Regions from separate parts of the Homo sapiens genome. Here region 1 is linked to region 2. Evidence: fine-mapped expression QTL. A gene starts in region 2. The other region holds a variant in brackets. All regions are shown on one strand. Distances are between the middles of the regions.

Region 1 (5,358 bases), 130 kb after region 2:
GCAGAATCTATCCCCCAGGTATACTTGCACATGTGCTCGAGGTGTTCACGGAAGCGTTGTGATAGCAAAATACTGGAAACAACCTAAATGTCCACCAATAAGGGATGGGTTAAATAAATTATGGTACAGCCATACCATGGAAAATTCTATGCTGTAAAAAAAATGAGACAGGTGTACTGACAGGGGAAGATGTCCAAGAAATATTAAGTGGAAAAAAGAAGTTACAGAAAGTAAATGTAAAGTATGATTCCATCTGTGTTTAAAATTCATATAATTTTTCAAAATGTGCACTGAAAAAACACAAAATACAGTTAATTATTAACAAGTTACCTGGGAGAGGTGGGACTGGGTGAGAGAACAGCCTTGGGTGGGGCGTTTCCACTCTCCACCCTCTCCGCACATTTTAAGTGGCCCATTCCAGTGTTAGGTGTGATCATTTTTTTAGAACAGCAACTTTCAAAATCCTCCAGAAGTCTGAGTAAATGGGCTTGAGGGCCACACTCACTTTAATCTGCACCCTGTTTACCCATTAAACTAACTCAGGCCCAGGAAAAAAATAATAGCCACTCTTTTCCTTGGTGGTTCTTGGGAATAGGCACATGGCTTTGTCAAGACCTTAAGAAAATACTAAGAGAAAGAATAAAACCACTGAGGAGAATATGAAATAAATCATTGTGGAGAACACGAACAGAGGGAGAGTATGTGAGTTTCCCAAGTAAAAAAGCCCCAGCTCTGTGCATGCCCTGCACCGTCCATTTCTCTAAAGCAAAGTACAGAGCCTGGCCTCTAGCGCACTCCCTCCCTGGACCCCAGGCCTCACCGCCTGTGAGCTGAGCATCTCTGAGATGGACTGGTCATACTGCTCCGCCAAGATCGCCAGCTTGCGGGTCTGCTCTTCCTTGAGCCGCTTAAGGAGGCTCTTGTGCTGAGCTTTGGGCGTGGTCTCCAGCAAGTGTGCTCGCAGAGCCTTGTACTGCCGAGTCTGGATCTTACACGTCTCCTGGAACTGCTTCTTGATCTGCAGCTCCTTAGACTATGCAGTGGACGGATCAAGGGGAGATGGGGGCAGCGGGGAAGAGGAGGAGGAAGAGGAGGAAGAGGAAGAGGAGGAACAACCAGGGGAAATGGGGAGAAGAGAGAGAAGAGGAGAGGAGACAGAAGCAGAGACAGGGAGAGGGAGAGAAACAGAAAACATGTTAGACAGAGGGGGTGGGGGGAGCTGTATACAGACAGACAGACATGGAGAGGTGGGATCGTGTTGAGAGAGATCAGGAAGGTCTCGATGGGCAAGAGATGCAGAGAAGACAAGAGGTTCCAAGAGCACGTGCACGGAGTTGGGTGCGATACCCACGAGAAAGAACATCGGAGTTACTGGACAGGGAACTGAGGATCTTGGAAGCTCTGACCAGGCAAAGAGGGAGAGACTGTGACCTAGAGACAGAAGCACGTGAGCAAATATGAGAACGTGCACGAGAACAAGCGAGAAGAACCAGTCACACAAAACACCCATGAAGAAAGCAACACGACTAAGGACAGACACAGGAAGTCCCAGGTCCAGCAGCTCAGGGAGGAAGGCAGGGAAGGAGGAGAAGCACCGAGCTGAGAAATGGGTAAGAAGGGGCTGCCCCATTTTGGGCCGCAGAGGAGAAAGGGGCAAAGGAGGTGGCCAGAAAGGGCCTGACAAGTTCAACCGGCCAGCAGCTACCACCCTGACCAGATCCGCATTCCAGCCCGGCCCCTCACACACTCAGCTCCCACTCCAGGCCCACACTCAATCCTGCTGCCACAGCCTTCATACTCCGCCTGGTTGCCCCCAGCTCAGCACCCCCTACTGTGGAGGGTCTGCAGCCCCGTCCCCCAACCCACTAGGGTAATGCCTGATGCAGGAGAGCAATTTGGTCCCCTGCAGCCATGGTTGGGAGAAAAGGCAAGGGATGAGGAGACCAAGGGCCTGGAAACTAAGACCTCTGGAAGGAACCCGCAAACAGGCGCTCTGTGGGACCAAGAAGTTCGGTGAAGTTCTACAGGGGCCCAGACCCCAGAGCCGGTGGTGGTCATGGTGCAATGAAGCTATGAAGGCAGAGAGCATGAGGCTGGAGGAGTGAGGGGGCTGAGATAACGGAGATGGGGTGAAGAGGTCATGGAGCCGGGCCGAGGGTCAGCCTGGGGGCATACCGGGGAGGCTAGGCGGCAGGACAAAGCAGACAGAGGCAGCCTGGGCCAAAGGCACAGTTCCGCTCAGATATTTTATTTGTGTTTGTCTTTTTCTTTTTTTGGTGGGGGGAAGGGGACAGGTTGGAAGGGAGACAGAAAAACAAAATCAAAGAGGAGAAAAAAAACATGACTCTTCCCACCCTCCACCACCCCTGGCCCCAGGCCTGAGTCAATGAGGGTGAGGATGAGCACACACAGCGGGCGAACAGCAATAACTTAGGGGAGGAGCGCCAGGAGAACACAG[A/C]GTGACTGCTGGACTCCACAGCTGAGGAGGCTGCCTGTCTAGAGGTCCGAAGGGCTGGGCCTGGGGTAAGTGAGCAAACTGAGGAAGGTGGGTGAAAAGAGAGGACTAGGGACTGGAGAAACTTCACTGAGTCGTGGGAGATAAAGTGCTCAATGCTCTAGATTTGGGCTGGAAGGGCTGGAGTCAGCTACCTCCAGGGGGGCAGGGCCCGGGACTGGCGGGTGCGTGACCTCCGCCCGGCTAGAGTCCCTGGCAGTGGCTGGCGGGAGGCAGGGGGCCCTAGCTGGCGCTGGCTGCGTGGTAGTAGCCGGGGGATTCGGGTGGGCCGTTCACCCCGAAGCAGGCCCCAGCTGGCCAGTGTGTGGATGGCCCACGGGGGCAAGTGGGATGCTAAACCCTGGCTGGCCCGTGCCAGACGCCAGTTCCAGCCCTTGCACAGGACCCAGACCCTTGCCAACAGAGCTAATGGGTGTTGGGTGGTGCGGGGATTACGCCGCCGGGGCCCAGGGACGGGCAGGCGGCTGCGGAAGCCATCCTTGTTGGTTTTGGGGTACAGTGCAAACAGACCCCGGTCCCCCACAGCCCCACAGCCCTGCAGGGCCCGGAAGGCCATGGGTGACAGGCGCAGCAGAACCCGCAACCAGAGTCGAGATATGCCCCGGCGCACCCGGGGGCCCTGCTGCCGCACCCATCTGCCCCCCGCTGCCATAGCCACCAGAGGTAGAGCTAGGCCTGGCCAAGCTAAGAGCCAGGCAGCTCCAAGGCCCAGGGGAACACCCATGAGGCCTCGGCGCCAGCTCAGGCCCAGGACGGCCCCCAGTGCGGTACCCTGGGCCAGGAGTAGGAAAAGACTGGAGGGCAGGTGCAGGGCTGTACAAAGGAGCAGGTAGGAGGCCCCCAGACCCACCAGCCCCACCTCAAGGGCCAGCAGCGCTGCCTGCAGGCCACCCCCACCCTGGGCTGCCAGCAATGGAAGCAGCAGCAGCAGCAGGAGGGGCAGGAGGCCAGAGGAGGACCCCACTGCAAAGGAGAGGCCGGCCAGGAGGCCATGGGACAGGAGTCCAGGGAGCTGGCTGGCAGGGCAGGGCCTCAGGTGTGTTGGAGGGGGTTCAGGAGGGATGTCGGGGGAAGGACAACCATCTCCAGGATCCCTAGGGGTCCCAATCGGAGCCCCCTCTTCCTCTTCTTCCTCCTCCTCAGGGACGGGAGTCAGTGCTGGGCCCTGGACCCAGCCAAGCTCAAACTCCTCATCCAGAAGACTCTCATCCTCCTTCCCCCACAAGCTCCATGTCCCAGCCTCCTCCTGGCCAACAATGCTCCTCTCCTGGGGTACAAGGGAGGGCACCCTAAGCTCCTCTATCTCCTCAGGCAGACCCCAAACTTCCTCATCAACCAGGCTCCCATGTTTTTGTGGACTGGGACTAGGGGCTCCTGATTCTTCCCCCAGAATCCTCTGCTGCTTGGGCTCCAAAGTGGCCCCTTCCTTTCCCAGAATCCTTCTCTCTCCAACTGCTTCCTCCTCCTCGCCAAGCATTCTTTGGTCCAGGACTGCCTCCTGGCCAGGTGAGCAGGGCTGCTGTTCTATAGGGGTGCCTGTGTTGGGTGGGCCCAGAGCCCCAGGAATGGGGAGTGGAAGGCCCGGGGGGCGCTGGCCTGCACGTACTTTGAGGCTCTTGGGCTGCTGGCGAACCTGGGCCGCATGCTTCTGCCGCAACTCTTGCTCACGCCGCTTGTTGTACTCCAGCTGGTTGCCCAGCTCCGTCTGGTGCTGCAGGCGGGTGAGCTCAGCCCGCGTGCGCTGCACGGCCTGGAGCTGCCGCAGCTCCAGCTCCCGCGTGGCCTCGTGCTGCCGAAGCAGCAGTGCACACTCCAAGTCCTTCTGGGTCTGCTTCTTGTTCAGGTCCTGAGGCAGAAGAAATGCAGGGCCCGGGGCCTGGTCAGTATCAAGGAAGTGAGAGGCCAGGGCTCCTTGGCAGAGGGAGCTGGGGATGGCGGAAGAAACACAGGGCCCAGGGCCTGGTCAGTATCAAGGAAGTGAGGGGCCAGGGCTCCTTGGCAGAGGGAGCTGGGGATGGCAGGAGATGAGGGTGTAGGGGAGGCAAGCTCCTCCCTGGCCTGGGAAAAGAGGCCTAAGGAAATTCTGGCAGGGTCTGTTGGGGATGAGAAGTAAAAGGGGCACTGAAGCAAAGCTGAACTGTAACACTCGAGGGCCAAGGAGAAAGAAGACAAGAATGAGGAAAATGGAAAAGGGTGGGTCCCTGGGATCCACGAGTGAGCGGGAGGGGAACAGAGATTGGGATGCCTACCTCCCGCAGCAGGTCCTGGTCCAGGCTGTGCCGAGCCAGCAACATCTTGCGCTTGTACTGGCGACACTGCAGCTCAAAGTACTGGCGCTGCCGCCGCAGCAGCCCTGCTTCCTCCTCCGCCTGGCACTGCTGGAGCTGCTCCTTCTGCCGCAGCAGCCACTCGGCCTTCTCCCGCTTGGGAGTGCTGGGGTTCTCCTGGAGCTCCTGGGCGAGTGCAGAGGGAAGCAGGGTCAGGACCCACCTGGCTCGCCATCGGCTCCGCCCCCAAGCAGCCCTAGCTCACCTCCTTCAGCTGTTCCTTGCGAAGTTTGTAGGTCCGCTTCTGTGCCTCCAGCAGGGCAGCCAGCTCCTTCTTCTGCTGCCCAAGGATGTGCTGCTGGAACTTCCGCTCCTCGGCCTGGGCAGCTCGTGCCTCCTTCTCACCTATGGCCTGGTGCCGCCGGGCCAGCTTTTCTGCCTCTGCCCCAAAGCCAGCCCGCTGCGCCTCAAGCTCCCGCTGCAGCCGTGCACTGTGCTCCTCCCGTTCACCCCTCAGCCGTGACTCCAGGGCCAGCAGCTGCTTCTGGTGCTGTCGTCGCATCCGCTTATAGCCGC
Region 2 (5,358 bases):
GAACCCAGGAGGCAGAGGTTGCAGTGAGCCGAGATCGCACCACTGCACTCCAGCCTGGACTACAGAGCAAGACTCCATCTCAAAAAAAAAAAAAAAAATGCCCAAGGCTGCCCAGACTGGTGGCCCACCGAGTCCTCCAGCCCCAAATGTCTCTGCCTGTCAACACCTTGCATCCTCCAGCCCCACAAGCCATTCTAATCTCCTTCTAGGAACAGAACTGGCAAAGAGGCAAGAGGTCACTGAGGGCCTCTGTCACCCAGGTGAGGACCTGAGCCAAGCTTCAGCTCTGGGTGTGGCAGAAGCAGGTGGGGCCATGATTGCTTTGGGAGGGGCCCAGCAGCGCCCAGCCTGACCCAGATTGCCAGGCCTCCTCACACCTGCTGCCAGATCAGCAGTTCACATAGCTGTGGGGACCCCACTGGCCTGCCCCCACCCACGCTGCCTCCTTGCCTCCTCCGGTCTCTTCCTGTCTTCAGCCAGGTGTGGCCTGATAGAAAGAAGGCATGCGCACCTGGGCTCAAACTCCAGCTGTGCCACTTAGTAAGTGCTGTGTGATATTGGGCAAGGCACCTCACCTCTCGGCGCCTCAGTTTCCGGAGTCAATCTATTTATCTTTTTTTTTGGTTTTGTTTTTTTGAGACAGTGTCTCGCTCTGTCACCCAGGCTGGAATGCAGTGGTGCAATCATAGCTCACTGCAGCCTCAAAACTCCTGGGTGCAAGGGATCCTCCCAGCTAGCTGGACGAGCCATTGCAACCGGCTAATTTTTTTTTTTTTTTTTTGTGGAGCTGGGGTCTTGCTATGTTGCCCAGGCCAGTCTCAAACTCCTGGGCTCAAGCGATCCACCACCTCAGCTTCTCAAAGTGCTGGGATTATAGGCGTGAGCCACTGTGCCCGGCCGAGACAGTTCTAATAATGAAAGCATAAAGCCCTAAGCATTGTTCTAAGAGGTTTACATGTATTAATTCCTTTAATCTTACAGCAGTACCTCAAGCTAGGTACTATTATTATCTCCATTTACAGATAAGGAAACTGAGACCCAGCCTATCCAGCTGTGAGGGTGAAATGAGAGATGTTGAGGTCAGGGCTCCAGTGGGTCTGCCCGGGGGGTGCTAACGACTCCTCTTCTGCCTGCTTCTCTCTTTAGGACCTGCCTCCTGCCTGCCCCTCTCCCGCCAGACTGTTAGAAAATGGACACTGTGCCCAGCCCGGACCTTGGCAGCCCAGGCCGGGGTGGAGCATGGGCCTGGCCACCTCTCTCCTTTGCTGAGGCCTCCAGCTTCAGGCAGGCCAAGGCCTTCTCCTCCCCACCCGCCCTCCCCACGGGGCCTCGGGACCTCAGGTGGCCCCAGTTCAATCTCCCGCTGCTGCTGCTGCGCCCTTACCTTCCCCAGCGTCCCAGTCTCTGGCAGTTCTGGAATGGAAGGGTTCTGGCTGCCCCAACCTGCTGAAGGGCAGAGGTGGAGGGTGGGGGGCGCTGAGTAGGGACTCAGGGCCATGCCTGCCCCCCTCATCTCATTCAAACCCCACCCTAGTTTCCCTGAAGGAACATTCCTTAGTCTCAAGGGCTAGCATCCCTGAGGAGCCAGGCCGGGCCGAATCCCCTCCCTGTCAAAGCTGTCACTTCGCGTGCCCTCGCTGCTTCTGTGTGTGGTGAGCAGAAGTGGAGCTGGGGGGCGTGGAGAGCCCGGCGCCCCTGCCACCTCCCTGACCCGTCTAATATATAAATATAGAGATGTGTCTATGGCTGACCCTGGCTCTGTCTGTGTTCGCGACGCCCCCGCCCTGCCCCGTGCGGCTCTGAGGACAGACTTGACTTGGGCTTTCAGGGGCCTGGTGCCCTTCACTCCCAGCTGCCCAGGGCTGGGGACGGGGCTCTGGAGAGCTCCAGACTCCTAGAAAGAAGGGGGTCAGTTTTCCCCTTAGTCACTGTCCTGTCCTCTCGCTAATGGCTTCCTGTCTAACTGGCTGGGGGTGATTCGGGGTGACTCAGGAGCACCCTACACACCCCTGGATCCTCTGAAATGGCAAGGGGTAGGCATGTTGGATGCGCTGGCTACAAGTACCAGTGAGAGGGAGAGGTCCTGACAGTCCTGGGTGGTTTTTACTCCCCTCATGTAGCCCAGGACGGGGCTGCTGGGGGCTGGGAAGGGCCTGGGGATATGAGAGCCAGGGCTACTTGCCTCACCTCCTGACACTACCCCAGCTTCAGCCGAACCCTGCAGCCTGGCTCCAAGCCAGCCCAGCGGCAGGCTCAGCAGGTCCCAGGGGCGTGGCAGTGGCCAGTAGTAGAGCCGGCCCACACTGGCTAGGCAGGCAGCACAGTCCCGCGGACGGCTGAGCGTGTGGCTGCAGGAGCTTCTGTGGGAGTACGGTCATGAGCCTTTTGCTGTACTATGCCCTCCCTGCCCTGGGCAGCTATGCCATGCTCTCCATCTTCTTCCTGCGCCGGCCTCATCTGCTGCACACGCCCAGGGCTCCCACCTTCCGCATCCGCCTGGGGGCCCACCGAGGAGGTGAGCCGGGTAGGGGTGAGAACAGGTGCCAAAGTGGACAGCACAGAGGGGTAGGTCCAAGGGGGCATGCTAGAAACGGGGCAGGGACCAAGAGAGAAGGAGAGCGAAGTGGCAGGGCAGGGTGTGGACGAGGAAGAAGATGCTGGCGCAGCCTGGGCTGGCTGGGGAGGTGAGGCCAGAGGGAGGATGGAGCCCAGAGAGGGAATGTGGGTGATGAGGTTGGGCCAGGCCCCTAGACCCCAAGCCCCAGAGGCCCACTCCAGTGCCCCCCACAGGATCTGGAGAGCTGCTGGAGAACACCATGGAGGCCATGGAGAAGTGAGTGTATCTGCCCCTGCCCAGGCTGCCATGTGAGGGTGTGCAGGTCGTGGACTGCATCACAGCAAGGGACGCCATTCACTTCCTAGCTGGGTGACTGGCGCCCCCTGGAGGTGGCCTGCACATCCCGCCACGAACTCCGCTCTCACATTCCCGGCCACCTCCCAGCCACCATGCCCCTCATCCCAGTCCCCTGCCCCTGCCCCCCGCTGACCTTCACCCCCACAGCTCCATGGCCCAGCGCTCGGACCTCCTGGAGCTCGACTGTCAGCTGACACGGGACAGAGTGGTGGTGGTGTCACATGATGAGAACCTGTGCCGCCAGTCGGGCCTAAACAGGGATGTGGGCAGCCTGGACTTCGAGGTGGGCCCTGCCCTGACACCCCAACCCCCACCCTGAGAGTCACCATGCCCAATGCGGGCCTCTAGTGACATCCTTCCTGTCCTCCCCAGGACCTGCCCCTCTACAAGGAGAAGCTGGAGGTTTACTTCTCTCCAGGTGAGAGCAAGGGCTTCGAGCCCTGCCTGGGCCATGCCTGCCTTCCTTGGACCTCCGCCTTGGCTTCCCTCTGACCCCTTTTCCCACACCACCCCCAGGCCACTTTGCTCACGGGTCAGACCGGCGCATGGTTCGTCTGGAGGACCTGTTCCAGAGGTTTCCAAGGACACCCATGAGCGTAGAGATCAAAGGGAAGAACGAAGAGCTCATCCGTGAGGTGGTGCTGCAGGCAGGGCTAGGGCGGCCACCGGGGGCGTGAGAGAGGCCTGGCTCTCCCTTCACCTCCTTCTCCTCCTCCCAGATAGCAGGCTTGGTGAGACGCTATGACCGTAATGAAATCACCATCTGGGCCTCGGAGAAGAGCTCGGTCATGAAGAAATGCAAGGCTGCCGTGAGTCCCCCCACCCCTCCCCCGTCCTCTTCCTCCTCCAGGGGCCCCTCCTCCCCAGAGCTGGAGCCCACCCAGCATGGGGACCCGAGCTAGAGGGGTCTGGGAGAGTTCCCAGTGGCGTGGCGGTGGCAATGAAAAGGGTGTGAACTCAGGCCTCGAACACAGAGCCAAGATGTGACTTTTGTTTTTTTTCTTTTTTGAAACACAGTCTCTCTCTGTCGCCCAGGCTGGAGTGCGGTGGTGCGACCTCGGCTCACTGCAACCTCTGCCTCCTGGGTTCAAGCGATTCTCATGCTTCAGCCTCCCGAGTAGCTGGGATTACAGGTGCACGCCACCACGCCCAGCTAATTTTTGTATTTTTAGTAGAGATGGGGTTTTACCATGTTAGCCAGGCTGGTCTTGAACTCCTGATCTCAGGTGATCCACCTGCCTCAGCCTCCCAAACTGCTGAGGTTACAGGCGTGAGCCACCACACCCAGCCCCAAGATGTGACTTGGATCCTGCAGGTAGTAGGGCCTCTGGAATGCCCACCACGGCTCCCCTGCAGCTCATGCCTCCTCTCTGCTTCCCCAGAGCAGACAGATTCTCATGCCTCTCCTTGCCTCCCCAGAACCCCGAGATGCCCCTGTCCTTCACAATAAGCCGAGGATTCTGGGTGCTGCTTTCCTACTACCTGGGGCTGCTGCCCTTCATCCCAATCCCTGAGAAGTTCTTCTTCTGCTTCCTGCCCAACATCATCAACAGGTACCAGTGGGGGGCGGACCTCAGAAAAACTCCCCACTGCTTAGGGTCTCCGTGGAGAAGGAGCCCAGATCTTCCCAGCTCCCCAGCTCCCCTCAGAGATAACCCCCAAGGTCTTTTAAGGACAGTGGTTCTTACCCAGCATTCATGAATACTAAGGGAACTGTGAACACCCTGAAATTCTGTGCATATGTGGAGTTTTAGGATAGAGAGGTAATTTATCCATCTCAGGCCATCTAGCATATTTTATTGAATGTCTACTCTGTCCCAGGTGCAGTTATAATGTGTAAATGAGACCAGTGAGGGTGGGGAGAGGTCCTTGGTGAGCTTACAGTCTGGCTGGGGAGACATTCGTTCATTAATTATAGCACGGCTGTCTCAGACCCTCAGCAGGAAAAGGCCAAGTCAGTGTTCTGCAGGAAGGCAGGGGTTAACAAAGTAACAGCTGGGGAAAGGATCAGGAATTTGGATACTTCGCTGGCACTTAAGCCTAGTCCCTCCCTTTGCTTTACAATTTTTTTTTTTTTTTTGAGACAGTCTTGCTCGGGCTGGAATGCAGTGGCCAGATCATGACTCACTGCGCCTCGACCTCCTGGGCTCAGGAGATCCTCCTGCCTCAGCCTCCTAAGTAGCTGGGAGTATAGGCGTGCAACACTGCACCTGGCTAATTGTTAAATTATTTGTAGAGACAAGGTCTCACTATGTTGACCAGGCTGCTCTTGAACTCCTCAGCTCAAGCGAGCCTCCCACCTTGGTCTCCCAAAGTGCTGGGATTACATACCTGAGCCCCTGGGCCCGGTCTCCCTTTGCTTTCTGACAGCTTCTCTGTGGTAGTCCCAGAGCTCTCTGCTCCCCTCTGTTGTCCAGAAGGAAGTCCCACTCAGCCCCCACAAT

What was found.
Region 1: its variant is fine-mapped to the expression of GDPD3 in whole blood (TOPMed, PIP above 0.99).

Annotation. Positions count from the first base shown.
Region 1 is chr16:29,985,268-29,990,625 of GRCh38, reverse strand. TAOK2 (TAO kinase 2) reads right to left here. Exons shown (of 16, transcript NM_016151.4): 14 at 5,048-5,358; 15 at 4,765-4,968; 16 at 2,233-4,361. The coding sequence ends at 2,646. Among named protein-coding and RNA genes, the nearest start is that of HIRIP3, 7.7 kb to the left of the region's middle. The variant A/C (reference allele first, on the strand shown) is at 2,459.
Region 2 is chr16:30,110,497-30,115,854 of GRCh38, reverse strand. It overlaps GDPD3 (glycerophosphodiester phosphodiesterase domain containing 3), which reads left to right and starts at 2,318. Exons shown (of 10, transcript NM_024307.3): 1 at 2,318-2,515; 2 at 2,791-2,833; 3 at 3,062-3,197; 4 at 3,287-3,332; 5 at 3,431-3,549; 6 at 3,634-3,723; 7 at 4,334-4,467. The coding sequence starts at 2,377. MAPK3 (mitogen-activated protein kinase 3) reads left to right here. Exons shown (of 9, transcript NM_002746.3): 9 at 1,147-1,750. RefSeq lists a silencer at 2,053-2,347.